Regions from separate parts of the Homo sapiens genome. Here region 2 is linked to region 1. Evidence: fine-mapped expression QTL. Tissue or cell type: whole blood. Region 1 holds a variant in brackets; the other region holds the start of a gene. All regions are shown on one strand. Distances are from middle to middle. Region 1 holds the start of ZNF197 (zinc finger protein 197). Region 2 holds the start of ZNF35 (zinc finger protein 35).

Region 1 (5,379 bases):
CATGTGACTTTGCTTAAAGTGTTTTTTGCCATGCAGTCAATCTTTTACGACTTCTGGGTACTGTACCACAATTAGAAAGACCTTTTTCACTCTGAGCATGAAGAGAGTCTTAAGTGGTGTCAGGACTCTATTAGTGAGAAATGGTGGGGGTGGGAGGGCTGGATATCAAGAAAGGTCAGTTAGGTTTTTCTAATAGTCTAAACACATGACTTAAGTTCTAAACGAAGTAGGGATAAGGCAATTGAGAAAAACTTGGTAGTCCTTGGTAACTGATCTGGGGGTGATGGAAAGGAATTTTTAAAAAGAATTTTGAATAATTTTCAAATAACATAAAAATAACAAATTCTTAAACATACATTTTATTAGCTTCTCACAAAAGGTTTTCAAAGCAGAAGTTAAAAAAAACAAAAGGATCAGAGGAGCGAATCCACTCAAGGCCACTTAGCTAACTGAGACATGGGAGCAAATTCTGAATTCAGGGATTCTAATTCCAGAAGTCCAAAACAATTCCATCTACGAAGAAACTTATGAAACCCAAACAACCCAAACTGTTCTAAAACAACAGTTTCCAAACACCAGTCCACGACAAAGCTTTAATCTGGTAAGCTGCAAAAAGAGAAAACCAGTAACAATCGTCGCTGACAGGTTGGCAATGAGTGTGTGTGTGTGTGTGTGTGTGTGTGTGTGTGTGTGCGCGCGCGCGCGCAAAGGCCAGCATTTATTCTGAGTTTACGGTCTTAGTACTTTGTGTTAAAATGTATTGCCTGAAGTAATGTTGGTATGGGTGGTTTCAAGTTTGAGTTTTTCAAGTTTGATTTTTAAATACCATTATATTACAAAACTAAAAGACTAAAAAAGCTAAAATCGTTCCACCCCTTAAAACAAACAAACAAAAAAATCCGTCCTCAAGAGTCTGGGCGCCACCGGTAATAGGGAAACCTCAGAATGTTTCTGTGGATTAGCCTCAGACAAGACTGAGGAAGAGCAGAAAGGCCTGAGCTGGGGGAGCAGGCTACTGAGGCAGCTCTTCTCAAAGCGCCAGCAGAGTCCGTTAGACAGGAGCACCGGTCCACAAACACACACAGACTCGGAGCTGCTGTCCTCAGTACTTCCCTCGGGCCGGCTGCCTGCCCAGCCGAGGCCACGACGTCGAACCCCAACACGAAGCTGGCGACGGACCATGCCGGGGGTCAGGGCCCGGGAGAGGCTACCGAGGGCTGTGCAGTCCCAGCAAGCTCAGGCCCGCGTCCCGGGCCGCCTTCCCTGCACGCCCACCCGCCCCCGAGCCCACCCCGCTCACCGGGGGCTCCCGCTGCGGCTCCAGCCTTGCGTACCGCCGCCTCGGCGCCAGGCCGCTAGGAGATGACACAGGAACGAGCCCTTCCGGCAGCCGAGGCACAGAATAATGGCCGAGCCGAGAATACTGCGACTTCCGGTTGCACCCCGCCCCTCATCCCGGATCTCTAGGAAGCCACATCTCTATGGTTCGTTTCTTTTCCCAGAACTGGGGAAGAGAGGCGGAACTCCTGAGCCCTTGGGTACTAGTGTTCCTTACATCGAACAAGAACTGGCCGCTGTTTCAGACCGGAAGGGTGCAGAGATGAAAGACAGGACCCAGGGTCTCAGGATGCCTGTTGCCTCCTAAGAGAGTTGGACATTTCTATTTTGATTTGCATTTCAATTGAGGTTGATAGGGAGTGACCTTCACGTCTGAATGACCTGGTAGGTGACTTTTCTGGTCTCTTCTTGAACTTATGCAATTCTCACTATAAATAATAACATGACTTATAAATCACCCTCTTGTGAATTCGCTTACTGTGGTGTATCTCTTGCCCACATGATGACATATTGGAGCTATGATATTAAATAATAATCAAGTTGATGGTGCAAGGTAATGTGCAAATGGTAGGGACATCTCTCCCCTGAAAGAAGAGGTTATTCTAGCTGTCCATCGCCCTGGGTAAAGTCAGGTGTATATAAAGGAAACTGGCACTCTGATCCTCTCTTTGGTCTTCAGTCTCTTAAGTTTGGACTTCTGGAACTGACACCCCTATATGGGACTATGGCTGAAACAAGTCTCCAAAAGGGCAAAGGCCATGTCTGCATGGATCCCATGTATTTAGCACCTAGTACAAAGCTGAAGCCATATAGGTTGTAGATGAATGTTTATTCAATGAGCAAGGTTCATGTTATTCTGTTTATGTCTTTTTTTTTTTTTTGAGATGGAGTTTTGCTCTTGTTGCCCAGGCTGGAGTGCAGTGGCGCAATCTTGGCTCACTGCAATCTCCACCTCCCGGGTTCAAGCGATTCTTCTGCCTCAGCCTCCTGAGCAGCTGGGATTACAGGCACGTGCCACCATGCCTGGCTATTTTTTTTTTTTTTTTTTTTTTTTAGTAGAGACGGGGTTTCACAATGTTGGCCAGGCTGGTCTTGAACTCCTGACCTCAGGTGATCCACCCCCACCTTGGCCTTCTAAAGTGTTGGAATCACAGGCGTGAGCCACCGTGCCAGGCTTATTCTGTTTATTTCTTTATGTTCTCTCCTGGCATTCATTAAACAACATACTTAAACTTCAGCCTTGATTCATTCATTCATTCAACTACTGAGTACTTGCCATATGCCAAATACTGTTCTGGGCACTAGGGACATAGATAAAGAGGTAAAGTCTCTGTTCTCATGGGGCTTACATTTCTAGTGGGATAAACAGAAAACAAATATAAAAATGTGTCAGGTGGTGGTAAATGCTAAGAAATGTGAAAGCTGATCATAAGAATTGGGTCATTTTTGTCATACCTAATAAAAGAAAGTCGAGAAATTAGCTGGGGGAAGCACTCAGGGTACACAACATTGCTCCAGGAATGTTATTCTCTGTAAGCTTGACTGCTGAAACTGCTTATTATAAGCCAAAACCAGTTTTATCTATAGCTTCTGAGATAAGTTGCTGCAACTCTAGGACTAATTTTGCCCACCGCAGTTGCTCACCAACTGGAGCTTGTCAGCTCCCCACACCCTTACTACTGCCAATGAACTTTCTCAAAGAGCAATATGTAACATTCCTCCTTTTTGTAAAACCTCTAACCTTCTCTTTGTTCTTCAGAGAGAGCACCACTTTCAGTTCAAGCCAGAGACTATCTCTCCGAGTTTGTAAACTGATGTTGTGAATAAAACTTTCTTTTCTTTCTTTCTTT[CTTTTTT/T]TTTTTTTTTTTTTTGAGATGGAGTCTCACTCTGTCGCCCAGGCTGGAGTGCAGTGGCGCGATCTCGCTCACTGCAACCTCCGCCTCCCGGGTTCAAATGATTCTCCTGTCTCAGATTCCTGAGTAGCTGGGATTACAAGCGCACGCCACCATGCCTGGCTAATTTTTTGTATTTTAGTAGAGATGGGGTTTCACCGTGTTGCCCAGGCTGGTCTCAAACTCCTGAGCTCAGGCAATCCACCCGCCTCGGCCTTCCAAAGTGCTAGGATTACAGGTGTGAGCCACTGTGCCGGCCAACTTTCTTTTCTACTATCTAGCCATCCTGGTGGTCCTTTGGATGACATAAAAAAGGGTAAGGAGGACCCAACAAAGGAGACTGAGAAGCAGCAGCCAATCAAGTAGGAAGAGAAGAAGGAAATAGTACTTTATGGGTCTCAAAGTATGAATGAGTAGATTTTGAAATATTGATCAATGTGATTGCTGTTCCCCCCACACTAAATTATAATTTTACTTGTAAACCAAGGCTCCCTTCTCCTCCCCTGCCCTACCTAGGTAGACAGGAGTTACACACTATGGGACTGGAAACAAAAGTGACAAAAACGATAGTGAGTTAGGCCATTAGAAGCCTTTAGTAAGGTGAAAAACATTCTTGCCTTGCTGGGAAAGAAGAAAGGAATGGGAGGAGCCAAAATGACCAACTAGACTATGGACCACTGACCAGTGAGCCTGTAATCATTCACACTCCTACTAAGCAATGGCCCGGAAGCATGTAACCAAAGAGTTGTCAGCTGGTAAGAACCACCAGTTGCCAGTGGCCAGCCCAGAGCCTCAGTTTTGTCACTCAGTTTGTGCCCTGAGATTCTGCCCATCTGACAAAGAACTTGAAGCACCCTCACCACTGTCCCAAGATGAAAGACTTGGTAACCTTGTGGAATGATGGTGATAGGAAAGGAACACCCTATCTTTGACCAAGGTGGAACTATACAAAACCTGTTTAAAGTGGGCCAGAGCTCTGGGACAGTGGTATAATACAACACATAGCCTTTGTTTTACATACACACACATTCCTGGTATTTAAAATCCCCAAATGTACTGGTGAAAAAAACTAAGCAAACAAGAAATAAATGAGTTTGAGATAGGCATATGAGAAGAGGCTGGAAGCACAGGACTGACATTTCAAGATGGGTTAAGATCTTAGACTACTGATCAACTAAAATGGAAATCCCGGTCTGAATGGAAAGTTTGTATTTCTCATCTTTCTATAAAACCCCACTTTGCCAGAGTTGTTTTTAATGCAAATTGGAATGTGATTGACCTATGACCAAGGATTATATGTATATAATATATATGGCTAAGAAATCTCAAGACATGCAATCTGAAGACCCAGGAGAGCTGAAGGTATAGTTGTAGTCCAAGATCTATAGGCCTAAGAAGCAGAAAAGCTGCTGGTGTAACTTCCAGTCTGAGTCCTAGTCGGAATCCAAATGTGTTAGTCTGTTCTCGCACTGCTATAAAGAAATGCCTGAGATTGGGAACTTTATAAAGAAAAGAGGTTTAATTGGCTCACAGTTCTGCAGGCTGTACAGGAATCATGGTACCATCTGCCTCTGGGGAGGCCTCAGGGAACTCATGGGGGAAGGCAAAGTGGGAGCAGATGTCTTATGTGGCAGCAGAAGGACCAAGGGTCGGGGGAGGAGGGAGGTGCTACACACTTTTAAACAACCAGGTCTCACTCACTATCTCAACACAGAGCCAAGGGGTAAAGCCATCCCTATGATCCAATCACCTCCCATCAGGCCCCACCTCCAACATTGGGAATTACAGTTTGACATGAGATTTGGGCGGGGACAGAAATCTAAACCATATCACCAAAGGTGGGAGAAGACCAATGTCCCAGCCAGAAGACAGGCAGAAAGAGCAAATTCTCTCTCAGTCTTTTCCTTCTACTCACATCTCCAATGGCTTGGATGAGGCTCACTCATGTTAAGGAGGGCAATCAGTCTACAGATTCAGATGTTAATCTCATCCAGAGATACCCCCACAGACACTCAGAATAATGTTTAGCCAAATGTCTGGGCACACTATGGCCCATTCAAGTTAACATGTAAAATGAACTATCACATATGGATTCTTCCAAATACAGTTCAGGGCATTAGTTATTTAAAGATTTTCTAGGCACTGAAGG
Region 2 (5,379 bases), 25 kb before region 1:
ATGCCAAGCTAATTTTTTGTATTTCGGCATTGCAAAACACGAGGTGTGCAATGTTGCTCAGGCTGGTCTTGAACTCCTGACCTCAAGTGATCCTCCCGCCTTGGCCTCCAAAGTGCTGGGATTACAGGTGTGAGCCACTGTGCCTGGACCACGGATTCTGATTTAATAGGAATAGAATACAGTATGGACATCAAGATTTTATAAAAAGCTCTCCAGGTTCTGTGTAGCAAAATTTGAGAACCACTGGTTTACAGAAAGTACTGAATGTCACATCAATCAGAAGGGAATGTTTCTATCCTATTACAAAAGACTGGAAGCTAGAATTGTACCCAAGAAATAAGACTCCAGGTGTGGAAGCAGAGGGGCAGAGTCCCCTCTTAAACTACTTGAGGTCTTCAAGTATCTCCTCCCCTCTTCCTCTCAGGCCCCCGTTTACCTTTTCTTCCTCTTCTGATCCATCAAGGCCTGTCTGAAGACCCTGCACTGGGGCCCAGACTTTGATGTTCTCGGAGTGCACTTGTTGGCTGGATGCCTGACCTGGGAAGTTTTCTTCTTCTTCCTCCTCCTTTTTCACCTTCACTGGGCCCCATGGGGCTAGGGCCATGGCTTCTCTCAATTCTGCAGTCATCTTCTCTGCTCAGCAGGGGAACTCCTATAGCTGGGCGCTGCCCTGCAGAGGTCAAACCCCATCCAAGCTTTATGTTTCAAAAGCTTCTTCTTGAGTTTCTTCCCAGGGCCAAGATGAGTACTGCCTACTGAGAAATCAGAAAACACTGTTAGCACCAAGGAGAGATTTGCTGGATGCCACTTAGCAAATTTGCCGGATGCCACACCGGCAAATTTCACCAGCGCCTGGCCAGGGGCCAATGTAGGACATGGAATCCTCTATTCCTCCCTCATAGGATGAAGGGGTTGGACTATAAATATGTAATATCTTCCCATAATAACCACATTGCAAACAGCTTTATATAATGTTTATTGATTTTTTCCTGATTAAAAGTTAACTTACTTTTATTGTAAAAACTTAAAAGCAGCAAATGATTAAGAAAAATCATCTCGGTCTACCTCCAAAGAGATAACCACTATACATTTTAAGATTTAAGATATTTCTTTCAAAGGAAAATCTCCAACCATACTACTAATAATTATGATTTTACAAATTCTTGTTTTTGACTTTGGGGATACATATTTTCACAATTATCATCATAGCATTTTTTAAAAAAGGATTTTACAACAAAAAGATTTTTTATTGCCAAGGATACAAAATAATGTGAACAAAAGGATCCCAAGAAAAAGACTGGGAGTCTTTATACCAACGTGTTAGCAGTGGGTAGTTAACTCTGGATGGTGTAATTACAGGTAGTTTTAAGGTTCTTTTCATTTTTTTTGTTTGATTTTTACATTTTCCATAGCTTCCAAATGTCCTGTGAGATAAAATATTACACTTAAGATTTAAAAAAAGATTACTTTCATGTTGCCATTCTTCATGCTTATTTTAAATGCTACACAATAACCTATGGTGTTGATAAATCTTCACTCTCATTGAAAAAGGATCAAGTAATACAGAAATATATAGAATTAAATATATAACCTACACACACTACACACACACACACACACACACACAAAGTACTTATCAGTTTAGATGGGAGTCCTAACCCATTTTCTCTGCATTTACATACTTATATGTTCACCTTCACACATATTGCTTATTTTTCAAAAACATACTTTAGATCATCACAGTTATATACTGTTCAGCAACCTGCATTGTTTTTTAACTCAATTTCCGTATTTCACAATAGTCTTAACAATCTTTCAATACAACACATATAGAACTACCTCATTCTGGCATAGTATTCTAAATTGTGGCTATATTATCATTTACTTAATCATATTCTATTTATGAACCATTTATTTAGTAAAAGTTTATATTTCCATTTTATTAATATTTAAAAGTTTTTCTTTGTAAATATTTTTTTTTTGCTGAATTATTCCTTTAGAATAATCAGAGAATTACTGGTTCAAGGATTTGCTGGTTGATATGTACTGTCAAATTGCTTTCCAAAAGCACCATGCCAATTCACACCCCCACTAATTGACAGTAACCCTTTATCACAGCTAAGCCAGCAGGGTTTTTGTTTTTAACCTGTGAGCAAAATAACCTTACTAGTTTGATTGCTTATGAAGAGATTGAAATTTTTCTTTCTAACCCCCTTTGAATGTTTTATTGGAAAAGGGTGCGAAATCTTATTCAATCCCCTGTTGCTGCTATTGAAGTGATCATACTCTTTTCCCCATGTCAACTTACTGGCCACTTACTGTATACACTGAATTTATTAAGTAATGCAATACTTTCATTCCTGTGACAAACCTTAATTCTGGAGGACTATTCTTTCCATCACTATCCGAATTCAATCTGGTATGAAGGTCCTTAAGACTAGTTCCACCTTGTGTATAAGACTGCCTACAGTGAGTACTCTCATCAGACTTCTGATCAGATTCTGACGGACCTCCGGTCCCAGACGGCACAGGGCCCTCTATCAAAGGCTCCCTTTCAACGTCCTTTCTCTATTTCCAAACGTGGCAATCCATTCTTTCCACGTATAGGCTCCTCGCGGCCCTGTCCCTGGGACCTATCTGGCCCCTTGGCCGGTCCGTGTGCATCCTCTCCCGGACCAGGCCCCAGGTGGGCAGCAGCCGGGATTCCGAGGCGGTGGGGAACTCACTGCCCCCCGCACCCCGACAGACAAGGCTGGTGTCCCCGGGGAAAGGACGCAGGGGCCGCTCCTAGGGCCATGGCCCCTGGGAGAGCCCCTTTTTCTCCCTCGACGTTCGTGCCCACCCCCTCCGACCCCACTCACTGTGCGCAGCTGAGAAGCCCGACCTGAGTTCACTGGCTCTGCAGCAGGAGGCTGGCTGACCGGTACTTCAGCTTCTACCGGCACGAGAACAATGACCGGACAGGAAGTGCCTCGGGATGGGCTTCCGGCTCCCCAAGTCGCCAAGCCGGCCTCTCTAGGAACCTCGGAGGTGCTTTCCTCTCGATGGGTGTCCAATGTCGCCCCAGACCAGGGATGGGGCAGAAGCGCTTAGGAGGATTGTGCTGTTGGAAGCTCTAAGTGAGCCTCAGGGAGGGGCGCATCCCAAGCAGGGATGAGACACTCAGGCGAGGCGCGCACCCAAGAGCCTGAAGCTACACAGCATTAATCTGTAGAAAGCCCTGATAATTTCCCCTCAAATGTTTTATTTTGAAAATATCAGAGTACAGAAGAGTTGAAAGTATGGCACATTGAATACCCGTATTTTCCATGTGGACTCAACAATGAACATTTTGCTATGTTTGCCTGATCTCTCAATACATATTTAAAATCATTTTTTTGAAAGTTGTAAACATCAGAACACTTCATTCCAAATACTTCAACATGCATCCCTTAAGATTAAGAATATTCTTCAAACTACCACCACCGTCACAGGTAAGAAAATCAACAAAAATTCCCTAATACCATCTAATAACCAGTCATATTCAAATTTCCCAACTGTCCTAAAACATGTATTTTATAACTTTTTTTCAAATCAGTTTCACACACTTTAGTTGGTTACAGCTCTTTAGTTTTGGGTTTTCGTTGCCATTGTTGGTTTTTACTTTTTATTTTGAAATGATAGAATCACAGGAAGTTGCAAAGATAGCACCCTTCACCCACTTTCCCCTCATGGTTACATCTTACATAAAATGAAAAAGGAAATCAACATTGGTACAGTATGTGTGTATAGGTATAGCACCTATAGATTTGTGTAACCACCACTGCAATCAAGATACACAAGTGTTCCATCACCACAAAGACCTTTCTGGTGCTACCTTTTAATAGTTCCATCCAACCCTCTCCCCATTTTTCCTCCCACCATCCCTAACCTTTGGCAACCATTAATCCATTTTTCATCTCTATAGTTTTATCATTTTGAGAATGTTATATGAATATTTTCATACAGAATATGGCCTTTTGTGATTATTTTCACTCAGCATTAATTCCCTTGAAATTTATTTGAGTTGTTATGGATATCAATAAGTCAATTTTATTGCAGAGTAACAAGTATTCCATGGTAATACATAAACCACAATTTGTTTTAACCACCTAAGGAAGGATATATGGGTTGCCTACAGGTTTCGACCATTACAAATAAAGCTGCTATGAACATTCGTATACAGGTTTTTGTGTGAACGCAAGTTTTCATTTCTCTGGGATAAATGCTCAGAAGTGCAATTCCTGAAGCATGACATATACATGTGTGGTTTTACAAGAAACTGCCAAATTATATTCCAGAGTGGCTGTACCATTTTACATTCCCAGCAATGTATGAGATCCTGTTTCTCTTCATCCTTGCCAGCAGTTACCACCATTAAAAAAAAAAAGTTAAGCTATTCTGATAGGTGATATCTCACGATTTTACTCTGCATTTCCCTCATGCCTAATGATGTTGAACATCTTTTCATTTGCTTATTTGCTATCTATACTTCAGTGAAATGTCTGTCTTTTGCTTATTTTCTAATTGTATTTACTTATTACTGTTAAATTTGGAAAGTTCTTTATGTAGTTTACATACAAATCCCTTGTTGGATATGATTTGCAAATATTTTTTCCCAACCTGTAATATCATCTTTGTAAAAAGGTCTCTTACAGGGTAAATTATCTTAATTTTGATGAAGTCCAATTTAACATTTTTTTTCCTTCTAAGGAGCATGCTTTTGAGTCATCTGAGCCTTCTTAGCTCAGTCCTAGGTCCTGAAGTTGTTGGTTTACTGCCTATGGATATCCAATTACTCCAACAGTATTTGCTGAAAAGGCGATCCCTCCTCCATTGAATTGCTTTTGCCCCTGTCAAAAATCAATTGGCCATTTATGTGAGTCTATTTCTGGTTCTTAGTACCTAACGGCTCTCTAGTATTATCTTTTAAAAACAAGCCTCCTCATCCATGTTTTATACCTTTCATATCGAAATTTTCATACATACACAAAAGCAGAGAATGGTATAATAAACTCACAGCAGACTCAAGACAGCTTGAACAATTTTCACTCCCCTCTCTTTTTCATCATAATAATATTTTGAAGAATCCAGGGCAGCTTTCTTATGCAATATTCCACGTTCTGGATGTGTCTGTTTCTCGTGGTGTCTTTTATTTGTTCCTCTGCCTCCTGTATTTCCTGTAACCTGGCAATGAGGTCCAAGAAGCTTGATTAAATTCAGGTTGAACATTTTTCAGCTTATTACATCACAGAAGGTGGCACATTATGTGGGCTGTCTCAATCTAAGCAATGTGACATTTTGTTACTCGGTGAAGAGGTAAATCACAGCATTCTCCATTGTTAAAGTACATATGTCCTT

What was found.
Region 2: it holds the start of ZNF35, and the variant in region 1 is fine-mapped to the expression of ZNF35 in whole blood (INTERVAL, PIP above 0.99).

Annotation. Positions count from the first base shown.
Region 1 is chr3:44,621,065-44,626,443 of GRCh38, reverse strand. The region is part of intron 2 of ZNF660-ZNF197 (ZNF660-ZNF197 readthrough); the gene reads right to left. ZNF197 (zinc finger protein 197) reads right to left here and starts at 1,408. Exons shown (of 6, transcript NM_006991.5): 1 at 1,301-1,408. The region is part of intron 2 of ZKSCAN7-AS1 (ZKSCAN7 ZNF cluster antisense RNA 1); the gene reads left to right. It overlaps ZNF197-AS1 (ZNF197 antisense RNA 1), which reads left to right and starts at 1,647. Exons shown (of 2, transcript NR_046658.1): 1 at 1,647-1,722. RefSeq lists an enhancer at 573-1,075 and a silencer at 1,055-1,404. The variant CTTTTTT/T (reference allele first, on the strand shown) is at 3,189.
Region 2 is chr3:44,646,317-44,651,695 of GRCh38, reverse strand. ZNF35 (zinc finger protein 35) reads right to left here and starts at 2,964. Exons shown (of 4, transcript NM_003420.4): 1 at 2,862-2,964; 2 at 437-755. The coding sequence starts at 628. It overlaps ZNF660-ZNF197 (ZNF660-ZNF197 readthrough), which reads right to left. Exons shown (of 8, transcript NR_147692.2): 8 at 3,225-5,379. It overlaps ZNF197 (zinc finger protein 197), which reads right to left. Exons shown (of 6, transcript NM_006991.5): 6 at 3,225-5,379. All of the region lies in intron 2 of ZKSCAN7-AS1 (ZKSCAN7 ZNF cluster antisense RNA 1), which reads left to right. RefSeq lists enhancers at 2,482-2,591, 2,672-2,841, 2,720-3,279.